Regions from separate parts of the Homo sapiens genome. Here region 2 is linked to region 1. Evidence: fine-mapped expression QTL. Tissue or cell type: whole blood. Region 1 holds a variant in brackets; the other region holds the start of a gene. All regions are shown on one strand. Distances are from middle to middle. Region 1 overlaps APTX (aprataxin). Region 2 holds the start of DNAJA1 (DnaJ heat shock protein family (Hsp40) member A1).

Region 1 (12,798 bases):
TTTCTGTATTACATCAAAATGATTTGCAATAGGAAATTGGAAAAGGGGAGCAAAGCAGAGTGCAAAGCATATACTGAGGTCTTTCCATGGGTATCTGATAGAATGCAGATTCAGCACAATAAAATGTAGACTGCAGCAGTGGCCTGTAAGTGTACTCCAAGCGTACCGTAAGAACCTATGTAAAAACCATTTTTTTCTTATTCCTAACAGAAAAACAAATTTTGTTTTGTTTAAACAATAAAATGTAATGGAAAGATCTGTACTGTAAAACTACTTGCTATAAACTATCACAAGGACAGAAAACCAAACACTGCATGTTCTCACTCATAGGTGGGAACTAAACAATGAGATCACTTGGACACAGGGCAGGGAACATCACATACCGGGGCCTGTCAGGGGGGTGGGGGGCTCGGGGAGGGACAACATTAAGAGAAATACCTAATGTAAATGATGAGTTGATGGGCGCAGCAAACCAACATGGCACATGTATACCTATGTATCAAACCTGCCTGTTGTGCACATGGACCCTAGAACTTGAGTATAATAAAAAAAAATAAAAACTACTTGCTGTAGCCCATGTGTTCAGTTTGTTCAACAACCTCACTCACACATGATGAATTACATGAATAGAAAGTCACCAAATAAGACTCAAGACAAAAAAATTATCTATCAACCTCCATATGAAAAGACCACAGCTTTAATGATTTATACAATCCTTAAGCTTAATATCTGGTCAGTATAGGTTTCCAAATCAAAATCAAGTCATAAGCTGTTACAATAACTGCATTATACTAACATTTTCTTTCCAGTATTTCTTCCTATGAGGGAAAAAAATCATCAGAAGCTTTCACTCTTGAAAAGCGTCCTAAACTAAAACAGTGTTCTTCTCCAAAACGAAAATACTCTACAAACAGTAAATAAAAGCTAAGCTAATTTCAACAGTCATATTTCCAAAAGTAAAATCTATTAAGTACAATACACCTGCACAAGAAATTACAAGAAATGATTACAGTTACAGATGCAAAATAACATCTAATTATCCCAGGCTTGTGAACATAATAATTAAAATCAAATTCATATGCTAGTCCAAATATTATGTACAATTTAGATAAGCTGGTCAAGTATTATTTGAATATACACCATATTTGTTAAACCTAAAATTATATTACCTTTTCTTGTCCTTTAATATTTGTAGATACACGCCAATATGAAAAAAAATGTAATTTCCATTTATGTATTAACAGAGAATTTCTACTGCACATGTTTTAAACCGTTAAAAAATAAAAAAGTCAAGGTACATTTTCACTTAAGAGATAAAAATAAATTACCAGAATTTTAATTGATAAAAGTTTCATATCAATTTATAAAAATGACCCAAGCACGTGGCTCATACCTGTAATCCCAGCTACTCAGGAGGCTGATGCAGGTGGATCACTTGAGGTCAGGAGTTCAACATTGGCCTGAGCAACATAGTGAGACCCTCATCTCTAAAAAATTGTTTTAATCAGCCAGGCATGGTGGCACACCCATAGCCCCAGCTACTCGGGAGGCTGAGGCAAAAGGATACCTGGAGCCGAGGAGTTCAAGGCCGCAGTGAGCTATGATCTTGACACTGTACTCCAGACTGGGAGAGAGGGTGAGACTCCCATCTCTTAAAACAAAAACGAAAACAAAAAATGAATAAAAAAATTCATTTATAAAAATGGGGGGGAAAAAACCTGGGTGCAGTGGCTCACACCTGTAATCCCAGTACTTTGGGGGGCCAAGGCAGGTGGATCATTTGAGGCCAGGAGTTCAAGACCAGCCTGGCCAATATGACAAAACCCCATCTCTACTAAAAATACAAAAATTAGCTGGGCGTGGTGGCGCATGCCTGTAATCCCAGCTACTCGGACAGCTGAGGCATGAGACTAGCTTGAACCCAGGAGGCAGGGGTTTCAGGGAGCTGAGATTGCACCACTGCACTCCAGCCTGGGCAACAGAGTGAGACTCTGTCTCAAAAAAGAAAAAGAAAAAAAAAACGGAAACAGATACCATATAATTATCATATGGTCTCTGATATAAGAAGGTATTTAAAGAAGGGGCATTAGGTCAAAAACAAGGACTAACCCAAGTGTGTTGCTTTAAAAATCTAATTTGTAGGAAAACTAGTTGCTTGGCCAGTTTTAAATCTAATTACAAAATCCATCCTTTTTTGTTTTTTGAAAAGCATAACAAATTTATTTAATCCAAGTTTTATGTGACACAGGAGCCTTCCAAATGAAGATGCAAAGATACGGGGAAAACTATCCATTTTTACACTTGGGTTTGTTGAAGAATGGAAAGCCATGTAGAACCACTACTGCTTCAAAAGGGTATACGACTTAATGAGAATAGACTGAGTGGGGAAACTCAGCAAGGCCTGTCTGTCCAGATTCTTCTTAACCTCTTTGTGCAGCATTCCTTCTTCCCAGGTATGGGAATGGCAGTCTTATGACCTACCATCAAACAAGGTAGATCAGGGAATTTCTTTATAGCCAGGTCTACATAGAAAAGAAGGTTAGAGTAATATTTTGGGGTTTTTGGTTGGCTTTGAGGAAGAAGGTTCTAGTTTCTATAACCTGCCTTGAGAAAGAGGAATTATAGTTTCTATGGCTTGCTTAGGGGGAGAATGAGGGGCAAGAGACGGGAGCAGGAGAAGGTCAAGGAGAAATTTTGCTTCTGAGGCCTTTATTTGGGGTTATCATTTTCTAAGCCCCAGCAACACTATCTGTGAAATGGAAGTGAAGATACCTACTTTACAGGGTTGCTAAGATGATGAAATGAAAGAAATAAAGCTCAAGTGCAATTTCTGATAAATAATAGACAGCAGATTTTAAATGAGGTATCACCTGTCCCATAAACATTTATGGTATGTATCCTCCCACCTTCAATATCCATGGTGGGGGACAGGAGAGCAGGACAGGAAAAGGCTACAATTCTCCCTTAACTACAAGCCAGATGAGCACTGTTTCTGCTGACTCCACTTCCATGACCCACTTTCTTACAACAGTGGTTCGCAAACCCTAAAGCTCTATTGTTGATATTCACTTTTTGATCCATTTACTATGATTGGGCTTCTGTCCCATCACACTACTAAAAGCATATTTTTTTGGATATAACTTATGTTTTGCTAACTACCAAGTTGGTTCTCCTTTTTTTCTATCATTAATATATTTAATATAGGTAACTTTTTAAAACTTTTAGGTTCAGGGATCCATGTGCAGGTTTGCTATATAGGTAAATTGTATGTCACAGGAGTTTGCTATACAGATTGTTTCGCCACCCAGGTAATAAGCATAGTACCCCATAGGCAGTTTTTCAATCCTCCCCCACCTCCCTCCCGCCACTGTCAAATAGGCCCTAGTGTCTGTCATTCCCTGCTTTGTGTCCATGTGTGCTCCGTATTTAGCTCCCATTTATAAGTGAGAACATGTGGTATTTGGTTTTCTGCTCCTGTGTTAGTTCACTTAGGATAACGGCCTACAGCTCCATCCATGTTGCTGCAGAGGACATGTTCTCGTTCTTTTCTATGGCTGTGTAGTATTCCATGGTGTATATGTACCACATTTTCTTCATCCAGTCTACTACTGACGGGCATCAATCATGGTTGATCCCATGTCTTTGCTACTGTGAATAGTGCTGCAATGAACATACAAAATCTAATTTCTTAATAGTCCAGATATTTTGGTAGTTATTCCAACTCAACAGAACTTCCACTGACGTCCACATTCATTACAGACAACGAATGTTATCAGTCCATCAGCACTACATTTGCACATGTGAACAAGCCACTCTGGGTTCCACCTGCCTTGGCCACCTAATGCTCTCTGATGACTTCTTTGGTCAAGTTTTTCCATATCTCTCTGAGCCCATCACTAGCCATTTCCTCTGCCATCATTCTAGCAAATAAGACAGGAGGAATATTCTCACATGGTACATTTTCCCTTAAATTTGGATTCTTTGCTCTTTAAGATTTGATATCCTACTTCATACTCTACTTTTGCATTTCGTACCTATATTCCTTAATTTCTTGATATACAGCCTCCTCAATTTGAGATCCTAATTCTTCCTCACCAGCTCCAATAGCAGTGTAGCCATCTCCTGTTTGGAGAGCTGCAGCAAGCACCTCGCAACACTTTAACCAAAGAGAGTCAGAAGTGCTTCGTTCCTGAATAAAAGATGAAACACGAGTATCTAGAGCATTTGTCTCACCCTCTCTGCTGCTTGCACTGCCACCGGAGCTACTTTCTTCTCTCGCTTCAGAGTTATTCTGCAATGTAACTGCAGGTTCTTTTTTCTTTTCTTCAGGGTCTTTCTCGGTTGATAGTAACTTTTTCCCAGATTTCATGACAGACTGTTAAAGATGTAACTTCTTCATCTTTATGCTGCTTGCCATTAGCATTAACTGATATTCTGATTCTTCTGGGGGCTGTAATAATTCCATGGTCATGGGAATATTTTTAAGCTCCTTTGGCAAATCCAATGCTCCAGCTGTATTCTTCTGCACCATCTTGTCCATCTACTTGGCAATGGGAACCACCTTGTCCAATGTGGCTCTGGCAGGTCTTCCCCACACCCAGCCAGCTGGAGGTGAGAAGTGTGTAAAACTGAGGTGGAAAGGATGGCAAGAAACAAGCCTCAGTGGTCCTGACAGGCTGAGCCAGGCTCTTCCTCACAAACCAAGCCCACAGGGGCAACCTGATTTACATGTTTAAAAGATCACTCTGACTGTTGTGTGAAGAAAGGACGGATAGGGAGGAACATGGAGAAACCAGTTAAGGAGGCTGCTACAGCAGTCTAGGCCAGAAAATCACAGCCTACACTAGAGCTGAGCTGTAGCAGCTGAGATGTCAACAAGCAATCCTACTTTGAATGCATTTTGGAATAGAACAAACAGAACTTATTAATGGGCTGCATGTTGCTTTGGGAGAGTGTTACTTACTGAGATAAAGAAGGTTAGGTGAAAAAGCAGGTTTGGGGAAGAAAATCAGGAATTCTCTTTTGGACTTGTTAAACCAAGTAGAATGCCTTTTTGTATAACAGCTTTCACTCTTATAATCAGTAATATTTCACGTTCTCCCAATAAATAATCAAAATCAATCAACATGTGTGCAGAATCCAAAATGAAATATAAGCACTAATAAATAAGCATAGCTGTATTACAAATGAATGAGGAAACCACACTAAATGGATTGAGGAAGAAAATATATTAACTATACTATAGTAACCTAGCTTTGGAGAACAGTGTTTTGACTAGATACGATAAGGCTAAAAACAAAAAGAACTATAGGCAAGTACTGTACTCTAGTTAGTAAATGTCCTTCTCACAGGGGTATGGGTTAGGAATCCTGTAACTATTTTATGGGTACACTAGGACTGAACAAGTAAATGAATTTATTGTAACTAATGAGAGCCAGGTTTCTCACTGTTGGAGAAAGTAGTTACAAAAAAGGAAAAGGGAAACAAGAATGAAACTTAGAGTTGGAATGGTGTCAGAGATATCAGTATGAACTCATGGTTTTTCACATACAAATAAAGGTAGATAAACACAGAATTATAGGGGTGTGTATGTGTGTGTGTGTGTATGGCTTAGGATTCATACATGCATTTCTGGCTCTATGGCTGAGAGGACCTAGAAAGCAAGGACACCCTGGAATCAACCACTTCTCTCACAGAAACCTAGTGCCCAAGAAGACCTAGGGCTCTTTGGAGAAGTGGTTCATTCCAGATAAGCCTGGAACATCTTGTGGGGCCAGAAAATAAATTGCCCAAAAGATGTTGAAGGCGTATCTAAGTGACACAAGAGCTGACCTAAAGGAGCTTTCAATAACCAAAGCTGAACAATTTGAGCAACAAAATAATTATAGTATTGAATTATAACCTATAGAATAAACATCCATGAGTCCATACCATTAAATGATTGAATAAAGAACTAATGAGAAAGACAGAACAGCGCTTTCACACAGAATAATTTCAACTAATAAGTTAGGTGAAGGAAGTATAAAGTCACCATAGAGTAAATACCAATACAATAACTATTACAGGCAAGATGCACCAATAGATGCTAAAATCATTGGGTGCGAGTTTGAGGAGAAATAGTAGTATAGTCTCAAAATATCTAACCCAAAATATTCATGAATTAAAAAAAAAAAAACAGTAATTTTGAAGGTGAAAACCTGGCAGACACCACCTTAACAAAATGATCAAGGTTAACATCATCAGTAATAAACCATCTCAACATCATGCCCCCCCATATGACATATTGAGAAGGACACAATCAGAAATATCACTTCAGTGATTAAAAAAATGCATAACGTCAACCTAATCATGAAAAACAAAATTAGACAAACCCAAATTAAAAGACGTCCTAAAGACAATTAGCCAGTATTCATCAAAAGTGTCAAGGTCATGAAAGCCAGGAAAGTAGGAACTGTCACAGATTGAGGGAGACTAAGAAGAGAGAACAAATAAATGAAATGTGAGATTGGATTCTGGAGTAGAAAAAGAACAATACAGGAAAAATGGGTGAAATTCAAATAAGGTCTACAGTTTAGTAAGTTATCTAAAATAAGGTCTATAGTTTAGTTATCTACAGTTAGTATTATGAAAGGTCTTTGTTCTTTTTCATACTTAATTTTTTATATTTTCTTAATTGAAAACATTACTTTTACAATAGGAAAAATAATTTTACTTGTTTATCACCTTTTCCTTTCTAATATGTTCATTTATTCAAAACTACATCATACAGAGTAATATAAAAGGGTATATAAATAGCAACTTTGCTTATTGGCTCATTTTGCCTCCCATATATACCTACCACAGCTCTTGCTGTGAGCATTCTCCTTAGCACGACAACATTCACTGTAGGAAAAAGGTATGGGCATCACGATCACTACGTGAAAAGGGCTCAGTGGCCAAGGGCTCTGTTAGTCAGGGGCTCTGCATTAGGGAAACAGGATTATGGGTGACTTTCCCTCCTAAATTTTCAAATCAGCCTTTAACAATAAAAATATATTTATATTTTTAAAGTGAGGTACAACATACATCCACCCTATGACCTAACAATTCCATCTCCAAATATTTATTCTTTTTTTTTCTTCTTCTTTTTTGAGACAGAGTCTCACTCTGTTGCCCAGGCTGGAGTACAATGGCGTGATCATAGCTTACTGTAGCCTCAACCTCCTGGGCTCAAGTGATCCTTCCAACTCAACCTCCCAAGTAGCAGGTGTGCACCACCACCCTTGGCTAATTTTTTGTATTTTTTGTAGAGACAGGTTTTGCCATGTTGCCCAGACTGGGATCCCTAAATATTTACTCAAGGGGAAAAAAATAAATAAAGTACATATGTCTATGATATACACAATAACACACATGAATCTCAAAATTATGCTGACCCAAAAAAGCCAGACCAAAAAAGAGTATGCAATGTATGATTCCATTTATACATGGTAGCTCTAGAAGAGACAAAAACTATCTATGCTGAAGGAAATAAAAGCAATGCTTGAGGGAGGATTAACTGGAAAGGGGCACAAGGGAACTTTCTGGGATGAAAGGATAGACATCTTCTGTATCTTAATCAGAATGATAGTGAAAAGATTATACACGCTTATGAAAACTGATCAAACTATGCATCTTATTATGCACTTTATTGTATGTAAGTTATGCCTCAACTTAAAAGAATCAGTACTGACTAGGGAAAAATCTGGCACAAAGATTTCATTTGGTTCAAGTGGCCAGTAACCTAAGTCATAATTATTCACCTAAATAAAATGTGAGTGTTGGTAGTTAAAAAAAAATAAGCAGAGAAAATCCTGTCACATGCTACAACATGGATAAGACTTGAAGACATTATGTAAAGTAAAATAAGTAAGTAAATAAGTAAAATAAGCCAGTCACAAAAGGACAAATATGTCCTTGTATGATTCCTCTAATATGAGGTACCTAGAGTAGTCAAATTCACAGGGAAGGAAAGTACAATGGTGGTTGCCAGGAGTGGGAGGGGGAAATGGAGAGTTATTATTTAAGGTACAGAGTTTCAATTTGGGAAGAGAAAACAGTTCTGGAGATAGATGGTAGTAATGGTTGCATAGTAATATGAATATAGTAATGCCAATGAATTGTACACTTAAAGATGACTAAAATGTAAATTTTGTTATGTATATTATATCACAGTTTTTTAAAAACAAAATAAAAACTCTAAAATCTAGACTTATCATCTTATTGCTTAAATCAAAGAAATCACGGAGATCCACCTTGCTTGTATTCTTTGAAAGAAATCAGTCATTCCTTTCTGAATCCTTCTGGGCATAAGCCACAGGAAAACAAATTCTATACTTTTCTCTCATTTTATTTTCAAATCCTGGATCTACTACGCTGTCATTACAGAAGTCTATGATGTTTGTTTCCTTCAGAGTAATGGTCCTTAATCATTCTGGGGTTATAGACGCTTTTGAAGAATCTGATAAAAGCCACTGACCACAATTCTTTATCTGAGGATAATGAAGCTGCTTCATCTAGTTCATATATTAGGCTCTCGAAG[A/G]TTTATATTTTGAGAGGAACAAAGAACCAAATATGACTGAATTATAGGCAGAAGTGGGAACTCAAAGCTTGCATGCAAGTCAGGCAGAGAGGTGGAAGCTTCAGCCCACCTGCTTTGGAAAAACTCCATCCCACTTCCCTGGGTCTCAGTGCAATATGTGCCCTCAGCAAGCCCAGGCTGAATCTATCTGCCCACCTGGACAGAACCAGGAGCCAGCAGCACTACCCACCTGGCTTACCTCATACTCGGAATGGCGTGGTAGCCCAATCGGAAGCGGAGTTTGCTGGACCCAGCAAAATCTACAATCACCTTTTCCCCCACAGTGTGCATATGCTTAAGGAGTTCAAGGTGTTCCCTGGCCACAGCCTTCAGACTGGAAATGGAGGTCCACGGTAAGACCAGCCAATGGTAACGGGCCTTTGGGTATTTATCCTTTATCACCACCACCTGCTCATCTTTGTAAACCTAGCAGAGGGATACAAGAGAAGGAAACAGACATCTACTAAGAATCTTCTGTGTGCCTGGTTGTTATATTCACTAAGTCACTTAATTCCCACAGTCTTGTGCAAATGGTTTTAATAGCCCAGTTTTGAGAGAGGAGAGCACTGAAATTCAGACAGGTTGAGTGTCTTGCACAAGTCATAGTTCCTAAGAGGGAAATCTAGGATTCCAACTCAGATGTGGTTGACTCCAGAGTCTGTTTTCAACCACCACACTACACAGAATACACAGAAGATGCACAGTACAAAATAGTTCCCAAGAATGTGATGTAAAATCTCTGTAGACATAAATTCAAAAGCATCCTTCTCCACTCCAACATGGCAGACTGTGTGACACGTACACGTGGGTTCCAGTGAGCCCTATTAGACCTGCCCCTTGTCAACAAGGAATATAATTGAAGTGGGACTCAAAGGCTCCTCAAGGATGATGCCTGTTTTTTTTTTTTTTTTTTTTTTTTTGAGATGGAGTTTCGCTCTTGTTGCCCAGGCTGGAGTACAATGGTGCAATCTCAGCTCACCGCAACCTCCACCTCCCGGATTCAAGTGATTCTCCTGCCTCAGCCTCTCGAGTAGCTGAGATTACAGGCATGCACCACCATGCCCAGCTAATTTTTTGTATTTTTAGTAGAGACAGGGTTTCTCCATGTTGGTCAGGCTGATCTCGAACTCCTGACCTCAGGTGATCCTCCCGTCTCGGCCTCCCAAAGTGCTGGGATTACAGGGATGTCTGACTGTTAATGCCAGGGCAGCACAGTACTACTGTCACAGTGTATTATCTCTGATGCTCCCCTGAAAGGAACCATACTAAGGTTAATGCAACTTCCCTTAAAGTACCCAGAAGTTTAAAAGGCACAAGGCAGAGGGGATATTCATTTGAAGAACTCAGCTTTCTCTCCAAACAATGACAGCTGCTACTTTATTGCCAATGTGAAAAGCCTCTTGTTCTCACAGAACAGCCCAATAAAATGAATCTCATTCAGAAAGACTGATATCCTTTGATTTCATTTGTAATTAAGACCTCTGTGGAGTGGTCATTTACAACATGAAATGTACTGAAATTCCAAAATTGTATTCTGACCTGCATTTTGGGGTCCTGCATAGAAATCTTCAAGCCTTGACTCCAGTGGCCCAGGGATTCCTAAAAAAAAAACAAAAAAAAAAACAAAAAAAAAAAAAAACAAGCAATGTAAATTACAAATGCCAATAATTAAATTTGGCAACAGTTAATACTGTGTGATAGCACAACTAAACTTGGAAATAAGCTTAGTTTTTGAGAATTAAACAAGATTCACTTGACTCTGCTTCACTCCATTGCCTTCCTATATTCTCTTTTTTTTTGAGACAAAGTCTCACTCTGTCTCACCCAAGCTGGAGTGCAGCGGCGTGATCACTGCAACCTCCGAAGTGATTCTCCTGCCTCAGCCTCCCAAGTAGCTGGGATTACAGGTGCCCACCACCACGCCCAGCTAACTTTTGTATTTTTTAGTAGAGACGGAGTTTCACCAGGTTGGCCATGCTGGTCTTGAACTCCTCACCTCAGGTGATCCACTGGCCTCCACCTCCCCAAGTGCTGGGATTACAGGCGTGAGCCACCACACCCGACCCTATATTCTTTCTTTTTTTTTTTGAGATGGGGTTTCGCTCTTGTTGCCCAGGCTGGAGTACAATGGCGTGATCTCGGCTCACTGCAACCTCTGCCTCCCGGGTTCAAGCGATGCTCCTGCCCAGCCTCTGGAGTTGCTGGGATTATAGGCATGCACCACCACGCCCAGCTAATTTTGTATTTTTAGTAGAGATTAGGTTTTGCCATGTTGGTCAGGCTGGTCTCGAACTCCTGACCTCAGGTGATCTGCCCATCTCGGCCTCCCAAAGTGCTGGGATTACAGGCGTGAGCCAGCACACCCAGCTGTTTTTTATTATTGTTGTTGTTTTTTGAGATGGAGTCTCGCTCTGTCGCCCAGGCTGGAGTGCAGTGGTGCAATCTCAGCTCACTGCAACCTCCGCCTTCCAGGTTCAAGCAATCCTCCCGCCTCAGCCTCCCGAGTAGCTGGGATTACAAGCATGTGTGTACCACCAGGCCCAGCTAATTTTTGTATTTTTAGTAGACATGGAGTTTCACAATGTTTGCCAGGCAGGTCTCAAACTCCTGACCCTCAAGTGATCTGCCCACCTCGGCCTCCCAAAGCGCTGAGATTACAGGCGTGAACCACTGCACCCAGCCAGCCTTCCTATATTCACAGCTGGCTGTTCTAAATGAAGGCGAGAAATGCCAGAGTATGAGTCATACCTTCTTTGCCCTCTCTCACTGCAGCTACAGCCTGACCAATTCTCCACTTTGACATCAGCATATGAATTACATGATCTATGAAAACCTTCTATAGATGCATAAACAACTGATCCACTTTAGTTGTTCAATGTTAAGTACACACTGCCATTATTGTTGTACCTTCAGGTGGCTTACCTCAGGAATTTAAGAAAAAAGCACATAAAGGAACATTCATCCAAATGATTTTCACGCCACAAACAAGTGACTCTTTCATCATGGTTAATAACCCCTCACGCATTTCTGAACTTTAAAGTGTACAAAACAATTAAGCAGTCATTATATTTCATTTCTTCTCCACATCATCTACCAATCACACTACCCTCACCTTTTTGATAGGTGCATCTTTTCCCTTCTTTAGGGGCACAGAGCATTGGCCAGAGTTGCTCCCAGGTTCCAGCCCTGTCCCAGCCTCAGCTTCCTGAGCAGCATCCCTTTCTATAGAATCACTGTTGCCTGATCTCTTTCTCTTCCTGTGTGTTTCCAGGCCAGGGTTCTTTGCCTCTTCCTCAAACTCTACAATATATGGATAAAGTTCATTCACCATGTGGAGAACCTGGCCAGGCTGCAGCTTCACCTCTTGGTCCTTCCCAATTACGACTGAGTCAATGCTGGTGGGATTGACTCCTACCTATGGAATAAACAATCAGAAAATAATTATAATAATAGCAACAGCACCTACAGTAAGATAGCCACTGCTATGTTAACCACTTACTATATGCCAAGCACCTTGCCTTATGTTCACCTATATTACTCCATCACTTCCATACATGACAGAGAAGCCTTCACTGGCTGGCACAGACACTCTAAAGTCAACAGCATAAGAAAATCATCGAGTATAAAATTCCAAGTTATAAATACACCTACCTGCTTTACCTTGACATATCCCTTGTTACACTCTGCTTTCAACTGTACTGAAAGAGATTGGAAAAAGTTAAACACAAATGCAACAAAGAACCAGGCACTTGCTCCTATCTTCCCTAAAGAAAACAAGCTTCACTACAGGCGGCAGCTGAACAGGTGGTGTTTCCTTAAAGGCCTATTAGCAATCACCTGTTATTGCAGGTGGCTGGAGCTCCAAATCCTACCAATTTCTAAAGGTTTAAATCCTTCCATAAAATGTCCAACAGCGTACATACTCCCTTAGCTATTGCCAAGATCCCTATGAGGCAGCTTCAATTAATCCCCACAAGTTTCCCTATTCCAGAACCCCTGGCCTGCTCATGATCACAGACTCTGCCGCCAGAAAAGAAGACCTGTTTCTCCCAGCCTGGGCAGCATGGCAATACCCCGTCTCTACAAAAAAATACAAAAATTAGCCAGGTGTGGTGGCACATGCCTGTAGTCCCAGCTACTTGGGAGACTGAGGTGGGAGAATCACTTGAGCCCCAGGAGGTGGAGGTTGCAGTGAGTCA
Region 2 (12,798 bases), 43 kb after region 1:
CTGGGGGACAAGAGCAAGACTTCGTCTCAGAAAAAAAAAAAAAAAAAAGACTGTACTTCCCCAGGTACTGTGGCTTATGCAGTAATCCCAGCACTTTGGCAGGCCGAGGCAGGTGGATCACGAGGTCAGGAGTTCAAGACCAGCCTGGCCAACATAGTGAAACCCCATCTCTACTAAAAATACAAAAAATTAGCCAGGCGTGGTGGCAGGCACCTGTAATCCCAGCTACTGGGGAGGCTGAGGCAGGAGAATTGCTGGAACCTGGGAGGCGGAGGTTGCAGTGACCCAACATCACGCCATTGCGCTCCAGCCCAGGCAACAGTGCGAGACTCCATCTCAAAAAGAAAGATATGTACTCCTCAAAACTGTCAAGGTCCTTAAAAATAAGTAAAGTCTGAGAAACTGTCACAGTCAAGATGAGACTAAAGAGATATGATAACTCAAAGTAATGTGGTGTCCTTGGTGGGATCCTGGAACAGAAAAGGGAAAAATTAAAGAAACCCAAATAAAGAACGAACTTTAGTTAATAATAATGTATCAACGTTGATTCATTAGTTGTGGGAACTGTACCATTTTAATGTAAATTTTAACAATAGGTTAAGACTGAGTGCGGAATAACAGGAACTCTACTATCCTGACAACTTTTCCGCAAATCTAAAACTATTCTTAAATATAAAGTTCAGTTTAAAAAAATGAAGGGTGGTGAGTGGGGGTAGGAATGAAGGAGAGAGTTCATAAAAAAGACTGAAATTGTACGTAGTCAGAAGAGAAGAACCACAACAAATTGGTGCTACTCAAAAAATAAATAAATAAATAAAAGTCTGGCCCCAGTTAATTAAAAACTAAATATTCTAAGAAATTTAAATTAATTTATACAAACATAAAAAATAGCATTTCAGTTAGGATTTACTTTCCACTTTGTGCCGATAAAAATTTTTCTTTTTTCTTTTTAATAGTAGCTCAGTTTTATTTTCTGTGGTAACAAACATTTAAGAACCAGAGAAAACAAGGGACCCCTGAGCACACAAAGGCAGTACAGGCCGACCATGAGGCCCTCCCGGGAAAGTAGCAACTGTGGGAATTCCCTGCCCTAGGGAGGATGGATGCACTGCCTAGGAGGAGACGCAAGGTTAGACCTCGCCCCATTTTCCCAGGCCAGGCTTAGCGGGAAACTGGGGGCCCAAAGTGCTGCAGGGTCCGCACCACCAGAGAAAGATGGTCGAGAAAGTTGATAAGGGAAATTCGGAGCAGGCAACAGTCTTCAGCTTTCCAGCGGACGGCCAGGATCCTGCCGCTCACTGTGAGATCCTTCCCAACCACCCTTTGGTGGGGTTCGGCATCTGGAGCCAGGGACCCATGGGCAATTTCCACCTCTAAGGGGGTCGGGAAAGGCACGCTGAGGGTGAATATGTGCGGCCGCATTCCTGGCCCTTGGCCACAGACGCTGCGTTTCTGCTAGGACCTGACACGTGCGGTGGGGGAGCTCCGCTGGCCGGAGCTGCCGGGGTGTCCGCGCCCCCGGGGCAGCTGTGATCACCCTAGCCATCCCCGCAGTTGGCGCCTCCGCCTGCGTCTGCATCCACGTCCCACATAACCGCCCTGGCTCCGACTCCTTTTCTTTGTAAACTAAAGAAAAAAGTATAGCTGTAGTTGTACTCATTCAAACCTGGACTCACCTTTTCCTTCACCCAATTTTGCTCCTACCCTGGCTTCTTCCTCCTTCTGGGCTCCCTACCCCAGGAAGGGGATCTCCAACCATCCTGTTGCTAAAGCCAGAAAGCTGGAAGTCATTCCTCCTCCCTACCTCTGCATCAAGTCATCATGACTCTACCTGAAGACTTTACATGTTTTTATATTTGTGTTTATTTTTCTCCCTCTCCATTTCTTCTATTTAGGCCTCATCATTTCTGATCTCATCGCTCACCATAAAAACCTGCTAAGAATCCAACCTTCGCATTAGCACCCAAGTGATTATTGTGAAATTTAAATGTAATCAAATCAGCTCTAAAACAAGGGTTACTGTGAGGATAACAATATGGCAACGTTTGTAGAGTGTTTAGCGCAGTGCCTGGCAGGTCCTCACAAAAGAAAGAACAGATGAGGAAAGAGAAAAGAAACAAAAAGTCAGCTGTCACAGGTTATATCACCCCATCCCTAAAATCCTCCAGTGTCTCTCAAGAGCCTTCAAAACAAAATTCAAACTTTTTAGCATAATGCCCAAGCCCTTATTACTTTGCTCCTGCCAGGCCTCCAGCCATCTCCAGCTACCTCTATGAACACTTACGGCCATGTGGTTATTGAGTTATTGGCCAGGCGTGGTGGCTCACGCCTGTAATCCCAGCACTTTGGGAGGCCGAGGCGGGCAGATCACCTGAGGTTGGGAGTTCAAGACAGCCTGGCCAACATGGAGAAACCCTGTCTCTACTAAAAAATACAAAATTAGCCAGGCGTGGTGGAACATGCCTGTAATCCCAGCTACTTGGGAAGCTGAGGCAGGAGAATCGCTTGAACCTGGGAGGCGGAGGCTGCAGTGAGCCGAGATGGCTCCATTGCACTCCAGCCTGGGCAAAAAGAGAGAAACTCTGTCTCAAAAAAAAAAAAAAAGAAAGTATGAAATATCCCACTGAAATAAAATATAATGGTAAGAAAAGAGGCCATCCATGACAGCAACAACAAAAAATGCCTAGTAACACATTTAAGAAGAAATGATGAAGACCTAGTTTAAAAAATGAAGAAAATAAATATACAGTTATATGTTCATGAGTAGGAAGATTCGACATTTTAAATGTGTTAATTCTCTCCAAACTGATATATAAAATCACTGTAATCACAATAAAACTCACAATGGGATTTGGGGGGAATCTGCCAGAAATATTCCTAAGTTCCTCTGGAAGAATAAACATATTAAAAAAAATACAAGGAATATTCTAAAAAGCAAGAACAATGAAGGGAAGTAGTACCATGTATTTCAGTGGAAATTAAGTATACATTAAAAGTGGTGGCCAGGTGTGGTGGCTCACGCCTATAATACCAGCACTTTGGGACACCAAGGCAGGACAACTGCTTGAGCCCAGGAGTTCAAGAACAGCCTGGGCAACATAGGAAGACCCTATCTCTGCACATACAAAAAAAAGGTTGGGGGGCGGATTTCACATTAGTCAGGAAAAATAAGATTAGTGTTAGACAAACTAGTTTGCCATTTGGAGAAAAATAAAGATCAGTTACTTACAAATAATCCTCAGTCCTTACACCAAAATAACTTTCAGATGGAATAAAAAATTTAAGTTTAAAATGGAACAATGATTCCAGATGCAGTGGCAGGTGTCTGTAGTCCCAAGTACTGAAGAGGCTGAGGCAGGAGAATCACTTGAGCCTAGGAGTTCGAGGCCAGCCTGGGCAACACATCAAGGCTGTTAATTTAAAAAAAAAAAAAAAAAAGGGAAACAATGAAAGTACTAGACCTAACCTGTAAACCTGGGACAACAGATTTATATTTATAATGCTGGACTGATGAAGGGGAAGGTGGAGAGAAGAAAAAGGCCAAAAAGGAAGAGTCACAATTTATCTACATAAAAATTAAAATCTTTATATGGCCGAAAAATATATATATAGATACTAAGTAAAAAGCGAAGAATATACTAAAGAAAACAATTGTAACACATGACAGACTAATATCTACCCCTAAAAGGGCTATTATTAAAATAGTGGAATTACACCACAGAAAAATGGTAAAATAATATGAACAGTTGACAGGAGAGTCAGTAAACATTTAAAACATGGTTAAACTTACTAACAAAGAAACTCGAAACAATAAGATATCACTTTTTATCTCCAAGCTTAGCAAAGATTTAACAACAAAAGGCCCTCATATTGGCAAGGCCCACTCACACACTGCTGGAAGCAGTTACAAACCAGTATGGAAACTTATTTATTACAATTTTAAATCTACATTCATGTTGACTCAGCAATTTCAATTCTAGCTGTCCATCCAACAGAAATACTTGCATGAGTACTCAAAGCTGTATTTGCTAATTTCTCTGCAGCAGTTTGTAAAACACTGGAAATTGCTGAAATATTCATCAGTAGGGGAATAAATTACGGTGCCTACATACTACGCCATTAAAAATAACAAGGCAGATTAGTTATTTATCCTGGCATAGTAAGATGACAAAGTGAAAAGGGCAAGCTGTAAACAGCTTGTATAATGATCCCATTTCTGTACAAACGAAGACCACATACAAAGTTATTGCCAGTTTTTTTATTTTATTTTACGTAAGAATGCTTCTTAAAAGTGTTAACTTTTTTGTTAGTTTCGTTTTTAGACAGGGTATTGCTCTGTCGTCCAGGCTGAGGTTCAGTGGTGCAATCACCACTCACTGCAGCCTTGACCTCCCAGGTCCATCCTCCTGCCTCAGCCTCCCAAGTAGCTGGGAGTACAGGCCCACACCACCACACTAACTCTAATTTTTGTAGAAACGAGGTCTTATTATGTTGCTCAGGCTGGTCTCAAACTCCGGGACTCAAGGGATCCGCCTGCCTTGGCCTCCCAAAGTGCTGGGATTACAGGCTTGAGCCACCATGCACCCCCTACTCTTCCTTTATTAGCATTTAACACTCAACTGTTTGTTTCTGGTTCCCTATGTTGTGAGCTCCTTGAAGGCAGGGACCACGACTTATGTGATTTTTTTTTTTTTCTGAGACTCGACAGAGTCTTGCTCTGTCAACCAGGCTGGAGTATAGCGGCACCATCTCTGCTCACTGCAACCTCCGCCTCCCAGGTTCAAGCGATTCTCCTGCCACAGCCTCCTGAGAAGGTGGGACTACAGGCACGTGCCACCATACCTGGCTAATTGTTTCTATTTTTAGTAGAGAAGGGTTTCACCAAGTTGGCCAGGCTGGTCTAGAACTCCGGATCTCAGGTGATCCGCCACCTTGGCCTCCCAAAGTGCTGGGATTACAGGTGTGAGGCACGGCGCCCGGCCTGACTTACGTGATTTTTGTATTACAAAGCCCTAGTACACTGCCTGGTAATATTAGACGTTTATTAACGGTTGGTTTAAACAAAAAACTTTATACCAGAGGTGATACTTGAGAAGGCAACACCTAAGATTGAAAAAAATCAGGTGTCTGTCAGCCAATGCAAAAGCATACAAAGGTGAAAAGGCGTATATGGGAAACTGCGGATAGTTCTGTGACTGGAATGCACAGTTAAAATTAATGAAAGAGAAAAGGCTGAAGAGGCAGCATGAGGATGCTTCCAAGGATAAAGTTCAAAATTCTTAGCGTAGCATATATACCAACAGACAAAGGCATGCCCTAACTAGCTTTGAAGCCTCACCTCCGGCTATTCTAGCTCCCTTAGCTATGGCTATATCCAATTAGTTGCAATTTCCTAAAAACATCATATTCTTCCACACCTTAGTATAGCCTTCCCCTGTGCTTTGTCCACTGCTCTCCTCCCATTTTCAAAACTCAGCTCAATTGCCACTTTCCCAAAGAAATTCTCTCTGATCTATCAGGTTAATATAGGAGGCTCTCCCCTACTGACTTCTACCTCATGGTTTCTCTGGCAGTCTGTTGACTTGTTTGGCTTCTCACTAAAGTCTAACTGGGGCTTTTCAACTCTGCATCTCCAGTTCTGTTTTTGTTTTAAATCGAGACGGGGTTTCACCATGTTGCTTGGGCTGGTATCAAACTTCTGAGCTCACGCAATCAGCCCACGCTGGCGTCCCAAAGTGCTGGGATTACACACGTGAGCCACCGAGCGTGGCAAACTCCATCTTTCTTGGTGCTAGATACTGACATACCTGCTGTGTCCCTGGATAAAGAAGCGGACCCCAATTCCCATTAAGCCCCCGTGGTACCATTTTCAAGTCCGAGGTCTTACGTTGCAGATTGTACATCCAGGTTCCCTGACCCGTAGGATTTAAAAGTGAGGTCAAATAATTAAACAAATTGTTTTAGTCAGACACTCTTGCGGCTACTCTGTAGCCAAACTGGGTGAAAACCTGACCAGAGGAGTCCACGGCCCTCTGTACATCAAAGACGGTCCAAACGTCTCACTGTTTAGCTCAGTCCCAGACACACTGAGCTCAATCTGCACGAATCAGCGAGGTCCAGGGCAGATAACATGTGTCTAGGGGCCTGGACTTGCACAAAAAGCCTTAACAACTTCACAATTTGATTAATTATGCCGCCTTGGACCACGCGTGAAAAACAGCAAGACCCAAGGCCTATGCTATTGGTCTGGGGACTAGACCCACCTGGCTCAAGCATTTTTTGCTCGCCACGTTCCCAAAAAGAGAAGAGGCGCCCGTAAGAGGGGGGGGGGGGGGGGCAAGACTGTTCCAAGAGCTTTCCCGTTCACACACAGCTCCCGCTGGGTCACTGTACTCGAGCCCTTCCCGCCCTCGCGGGCCCAGGCGGCCACCCCACAGGTTTGGGAACCCTAGGACTTGCAGTGCTCCTGGGCCATGCCCCACCAGCCGGAGACTTCCGCACTCTCAGGCTCGCTGAGTGGAGAAAAGGGCTCCAGAAGATTCCACGAGCGCCGGGAAGCCGCGCTAGCACCAACACCCACAAGGCCTTTCGGCGCAGCTCCTCCCGACCCGTGCGCCCCCGCGCCGTTGCCCAGGTAACGGCGGGGCGGTGGCAGCGGCCGAGAAGGGCGGGACTTCCGGCGGGTGACGCGCCCGGGTTCGGCTACAAAAGAGGACGGCTGCGGCGCGCCGGGCGGAACTTTCCAGAACGCTCGGTGAGAGGCGGAGGAGCGGTAACTACCCCGGCTGCGCACAGCTCGGCGCTCCTTCCCGCTCCCTCACACACCGGCCTCAGCCCGCACCGGTGAGTTTGAGCCCTCGCGCTGCCCCTAGTCCCCTGGCTGGCGCCATTGGCGCCGGGAAACCGATGGAGCCGCGGTCGGGAGGCAGTTGGCCGCGTGGGTAGGACCGCTGTCAGTTCCTGGGCCCACGATTTCCCTTTTGGAGGGCTGGTGTGGTGCCCTGGCAACCCATCCCCGGCACGCACAGTGAATGGGCCCGAGACCTTTCCTAGACCTCCCTCCTTCCCCAGCCTGGGATCTCCAAGGAGCTACTGTCTTCGGCTGCCCCTCCGTGCGCGCCCCCGCGGCCCCCCTCCCCGTCCGTGCTCGCTCGGGGTGGGGGGGGGGAGTGGGGTTGGCGACCCTGCGCACGCGCACAGGGAGGCAGGGGCGAGGGGCTGCGGGGGGAGCCGGGCGGAGACTGCGGCTTTTGGTTTCGCTTTCTCTGTTTCCCCTCCCTTTGTTTGTTGAGGGCTGGGCTTTCCCCACCGCCACTTGGGTCCAGGGTGGGAGGGAGAAAGGAAGGAAATCGGTCAGCGCCAAGTGCAAGGGGAAACCTGGCAGGTAAACTCTGCCAGCCTGAGGGGCGAGAGGGATTCGGCTGGAGAAGCTGTAAGCCGTGGGCGGTGGAGGGCTTGCTGTGTGGAGCCAGTAACCTGTTCTATAAACCACTCCCCCCCACCACTGTGTGCCCAGACGTCTTTTTCTGGAGAGTATATGGAGTTTATCAGATTTGCCAAAGACAGTGATAGTGTAATGACCGGTAGACTGAACATATCAGTGCTTCTTTTGGTTACAACTGTCACCGCCTCTAGGGCAAACGGGAAGAATCCAGATAATAGTTGTGTTATATTAGTATGGAAGCTTTGGTGTAGGAAAATTGGAACCAGCTGCTAGAAGGCGGCTCTCAGATTATTTCCCGATAATGATTATTTGTTTTGTCTGTTCGAGTTTATAGCTGAATTATCGCAGGAATTGTTACCTTTTTGGTGAAATTTAGGGAAGGTGGTGTTCTTATAATCGGATTTTGCAAAGAGATTGCTCGGCCTTAGCTCTCTTTTTTATTAAAAGCTACCAGTTGAAAGCCGGTTAAAGTTGCATTTTCTTATTTCAGGCAGTAGAAGATGGTGAAAGAAACAACTTACTACGATGTTTTGGGGGTCAAACCCAATGCTACTCAGGAAGAATTGAAAAAGGCTTATAGGAAACTGGCTTTGAAGTACCATCCTGATAAGAACCCAAATGAAGGAGAGAAGGTGAATAGTATCTACTCTTAAACGTATCTGAATAGTTCTTTGCCAGACGTATAGTATTTCTATTATGGCCTGAAATCGAGTATCTAATATAGTAACTATGATCACTTCTCGGCCTTTTTAGCTAAGATCAAGTGTAATGTAGCTAGGTAACACTTGTTTTTTAAAAAATGAAATTCACTCCTCTTTTCTCAAACAGTTTAAACAGATTTCTCAAGCTTACGAAGTTCTCTCTGATGCAAAGAAAAGGGAATTATATGACAAAGGAGGAGAACAGGCAATTAAAGAGGGTGGAGCAGGTGGCGGTTTTGGCTCCCCCATGGACATCTTTGATATGTTTTTTGGAGGAGGAGGAAGGATGCAGAGAGAAAGGAGAGGTAAGAAGAATCTAGTCTTTGTGCAGCTAACTAAAGTTAGCTGTTGGTCAGAGCAGATCTTTGAGAAATCACCCATTTTAAATGCTTGTTTACATGTTGGTATAATGTTGCAAACTGACCACAAATTGCCTCTGATTTATGGTGTCGTGTTTTTTTGTTGTGGTTTTTTTTTTTTTTTTCTTGAGACGGAGTTTCCCTCTTATTGCCCAGGCTGGAGAGCCATGGCGTGGTCTCAGCTCACAGCAACCTCCACCTCCCGGGTTCAAGCGATTCTCCTGCCTCAGCCTCCCAAGTAGCTGGGATTACAGGCATGTGCCACCAAACCCGGCTAATTTTGTATTTTTAGTAGAGATGGGGTTTCACCATGTTGGTCACGCTGGTCTTGAACTGCAAACCTCAGGTGGTGATCCACCTGCCTTGGCCTCCCAGAGTGCTGGGATTACAGGTGTGAGCCACCATGCCCAGCCAGTGGTGTCGCTTTTTTTAAAATGAGATTTAAGGGGCCTAAAAAATAGCCAACAGAGTGGTAGCAAATGACTGCTTCCAAAAATCTTAGATATTATCAAACAAATTATGAGAACAGGCCGCGTGCTGTGGCTCATTCTGTAATCCCAGCACTTTGGGAGGCCGAGGTGGGTGGATCACTGAGGTCAGGGTTCGAGACCAGCCTGGCCAAGATGGTGAAACCCCATCTCTACAAAACTACAGAATTAGCTGGGCGTGGTGGTGGGCATCTGCAATCCCAGCTCCTCTGGAGGCTGAGGCAGGAGAATCGCTTGAACCCTGGAGGCAGAGGTTGCAGCGAACGGAGGTCACGCCACTGCACTCCAGCCTGGGCAACAAGAGTGAATCTCTGTCACAAAAAACCCAAAAAAATCCAAAAATTAGCCAGGCATGGTGGTGCGTGCCTGTAATCCCAGTTACTCAGGAGGGCTGAAGCAGGAGAGTCGCTTGAACCCGGGAGGTGGAGGTTGCAGTGAGCTGAGATCGCCCAATTACACTCCAGCCTGAGCAACACAGCGAGACTCTTGTCTCAAAAAAAAAAAAAAAAAAAAAAAAAGACAAAGTATATAGCAATATAATTTTCCAAGCCCTTTTTACAGATCTTATTTGGTGTTCCCTCACTCCCCAAAGGAATTTGATGGTAGGTACAGTGGCCTTTTTCAAATGGGAGTAAGTTAAAGTTCAGAAACCTAAAACTTCTTCAAGCTCATATAGCAAGCCAACAGAGCCAGGGCTGAAAACTGGTTCGTTGCCTGCCATCTATCTATTCTTGTTTCAGCTTTATTGTGTCAAAATTATGTATTTAATATGTTTATCAGGAAAGTGGCCTATGGGCTCTAGAAATACTGCTTATAGGAGTAAAATGTTCAAGAGAAATCAGTCTCACTTTATTTCCAGTATAGTGTATACAAATAAGGGCTGATGAGCAGAACCAGTTTTAGAATGAATGGCCAAGCCATTAAATTTCACTTTGAGCTTCTTAAGGTTCAGAAAGATTTGGGAAATTGTTTATTCAGTTTTTCTTTAAAGATCTTCAAGGAAAGGATTATGTTTTTATTAAGATACTTAAACTCCTTAAAAAGAAAGTCCACAATCCAAATGACTTGCTTAGTAAATTGTTAGAATTTGTCCACAAAAAAGTAGTGGTGGTTTTTCACTTACCTTACAAAGAACCTGCAGGTTAACATTGGCAAGCTCTTTTATGTGGCTTATGATCATATTGAGAGGTTATTTCTGGGGAAATGCGCTTCATCAAGCTCTAGAAGCTTTATTTTTCCTTCCTTATACTCAACACTGTTCAAAATAAGGGCAGCTAGATTTTAGCGTGCCAAAACTAAAGGTGGAACTATAAGCAGAAGGACATAATTAATGGTATTTCATGCTTGATTAGAAAGTTAAAATGTTCATTAGGCATATTGTACAGAAACGAGTTTGAGAACTTTTTTCAGTTGGTGGAAAGGCAATAATATTGTTGTGAATAAGTCCTTGTGGAAGGACCACTAGTTAGGAACTTACTAACTTACTAGCAGGTGACTTCATACTTCTAACCTCAGTGTCCTTATGAGATCTTGACCTTCCATTTCCTATTCTGATTTAAGTGAAGTAAGGCACTCCTTAGTAGCCACTGGCCATGTGTGGCTCCATTAATTTAAGACAAAAACAAAAATACGGTTTCTTAGTCTAAATGGCCACATTTACATGCTCAATAAGCACATGTGATTGGTGGCTGCTACGTTGGACAGAACAGATATAAAACATTTATCACTGCAGAAAGTTCTGTTGGGCAATGCTATTATAAAAGGTATGAGAAATTTGGCCTTCAAAACAACCAGTGCTGGCCCAGCAGTAAATGGGCTGTTTTCTACTAAATCAGGAAGAAGTAGAAATTGATACTCTTCTGTGGTGACTCAATAAATACATCAGCTTCCCTGGCCAATCTTGATTAATGAGAATTTACTGTGCTACAGAATTTTTGGATGAAGTAATTGGCCATGTTGCTCAATACGGTACGAAGTGAAAGCTTCAAAAAATATATTGTGACAGAAATGAATGTTTGGATTATTGTGAAATGTGCCCTTTTAAATAACATTGGTTTTTCTCAAGTGACTTTGAAGGTAATGCTTTTGCTTACCATATTTCCAAGATGGCCACGTCTGTGCCCTTAAGCAAATATTTAATCTCTGACCTGATTTTCCCTCATCTGTGATTACATCACAGTTTGAGGATCATCTGTGATAACGTGAACATTCTGTGTATATAGTAGGTAGTCAACAGATGTACCCTGTGAGGCTCATCTTTTATTATTCTTTGCCACATTCTTTATAGTGCCTTTAGCACAAATAAGATCCAGCATCTTAAACAGATTTGCAATGAGAAATATTTTGTTTTAGGTAAAAATGTTGTACATCAGCTCTCAGTAACCCTAGAAGACTTATATAATGGTGCAACAAGAAAACTGGCTCTGCAAAAGAATGTGATTTGTGACAAATGTGAAGGTACGGTGTTTTTTTGTTTTGTTTTGTTTTGTTTTTAAGCACCTTTAATATGACACCTGAAAATGGAGCTAAGACTTCTAGATAGATATGTAAAATTGATTCATGTACACTACCTAGATTTTGGGGGAGGAGAGGGCAGATATGAAGAAAACCAACTGAAAACCTCCCACCTAAAGAAATATCAGCACTTTTTTCTGTGTATATTTTAAATACAGTTGGGATCAAGCTAGTTTGGTATCTTTTTTGTAATAAGTAAAATTTATTGGAAAGTGTGTTCTAATAAGAATGAAACTCATTGGAATGATCTCATCAGTTGTACATTCAGAGGGTAGCATTCCATCAGGCTTCGAAAATATTAAAAGTATAGCATTTAGGAATTGTCTTCTTAAAACATTTACTACTGTATACACTACTAATTCATACATTATTTAATTTTCTTTTTAAATTTAGGTAGAGGAGGTAAGAAAGGAGCAGTAGAGTGCTGTCCCAATTGCCGAGGTACTGGAATGCAAATAAGAATTCATCAGATAGGACCTGGAATGGTTCAGCAAATTCAGTCTGTGTGCATGGAGTGCCAGGGCCATGGGGAGCGGATCAGTCCTAAAGATAGATGTAAAAGCTGCAACGGAAGGAAGATAGTTCGAGAGAAGAAAATTTTAGAAGTTCATATTGACAAAGGTGAGTTCTGAGTTACTTATTCTGAAGTCTTGAATGCTGTGGCAGATTTATTATTAACATTTTATAATTGTTTAAAAATCATTCTTAATTAGGTTATATATGATCCTATCAATCAGAAATAACTCTTAGCAGCTTAGTAAATAATGTTCTTTTATCCAGACATAATTTTGCACATTGGTATATTACTAATACAGAATATATTAGGAATCTCCTCATTTAATATAACAGGATCATCTTTTGAAATCTGTGGTCCTGTAAATGATTGAATAGTGTTCCAAACTTAATTCTCTCCTGTTAAACCATAGTTCTTCCATCTTTTAAAACATTAGAATTGTACACATTCTTAATTAGGAGTTACTAGATCAAGGGATAGGCATACTTTTAAGGATTTGAAAGGGGAGTTAGGTGAAGAATTGGGTCTCATAAAAATTCATGGTTTTTTTGGAGACGGAGTTTCGCTCTTGTTTCCCAGGCTGGAGTGTGCAATGGCACGATCTCAGCTCATTGCAACCTCTGCCTCCCGGGTTCAAGCAGTTCTTCTGCCTCAGCCTCCCAAGTACCTGGGATTACAGGCACCCAGCACCATGCCCGGCTAATGTTTTGTATTTTTAGTAGAGACGGGGTTTCACCATGTTGGCCAGGCTGATCTCGAACACTTGACCTCAGGTGAT

What was found. PIP is the estimated chance that this variant, and not a neighbour inherited with it, causes the effect.
Region 2: DNAJA1 starts here. The variant in region 1 is fine-mapped to the expression of DNAJA1 in whole blood (INTERVAL, PIP above 0.99).

The regions. Positions count from the first base shown.
Region 1 is chr9:32,975,833-32,988,630 of GRCh38, forward strand. APTX (aprataxin) reads right to left here. Exons shown (of 8, transcript NM_001195248.2): 3 at 12,251-12,297; 4 at 11,712-12,014; 5 at 10,139-10,198; 6 at 8,799-9,025. It also overlaps the pseudogene TCEA1P4. Among named protein-coding and RNA genes, the nearest start is that of APTX, 19 kb to the right of the region's middle. The variant A/G (reference allele first, on the strand shown) is at 8,561.
Region 2 is chr9:33,018,541-33,031,338 of GRCh38, forward strand. DNAJA1 (DnaJ heat shock protein family (Hsp40) member A1) reads left to right here and starts at 6,733. Exons shown (of 9, transcript NM_001539.4): 1 at 6,733-6,843; 2 at 7,935-8,076; 3 at 8,273-8,450; 4 at 11,345-11,449; 5 at 11,900-12,127. The coding sequence starts at 7,945. It also overlaps a transcript of APTX not described here and the pseudogene LAGE3P1. RefSeq lists enhancers at 5,573-6,168, 6,491-6,785, 6,763-7,357, 7,314-7,383 and silencers at 6,644-6,793, 7,074-7,213.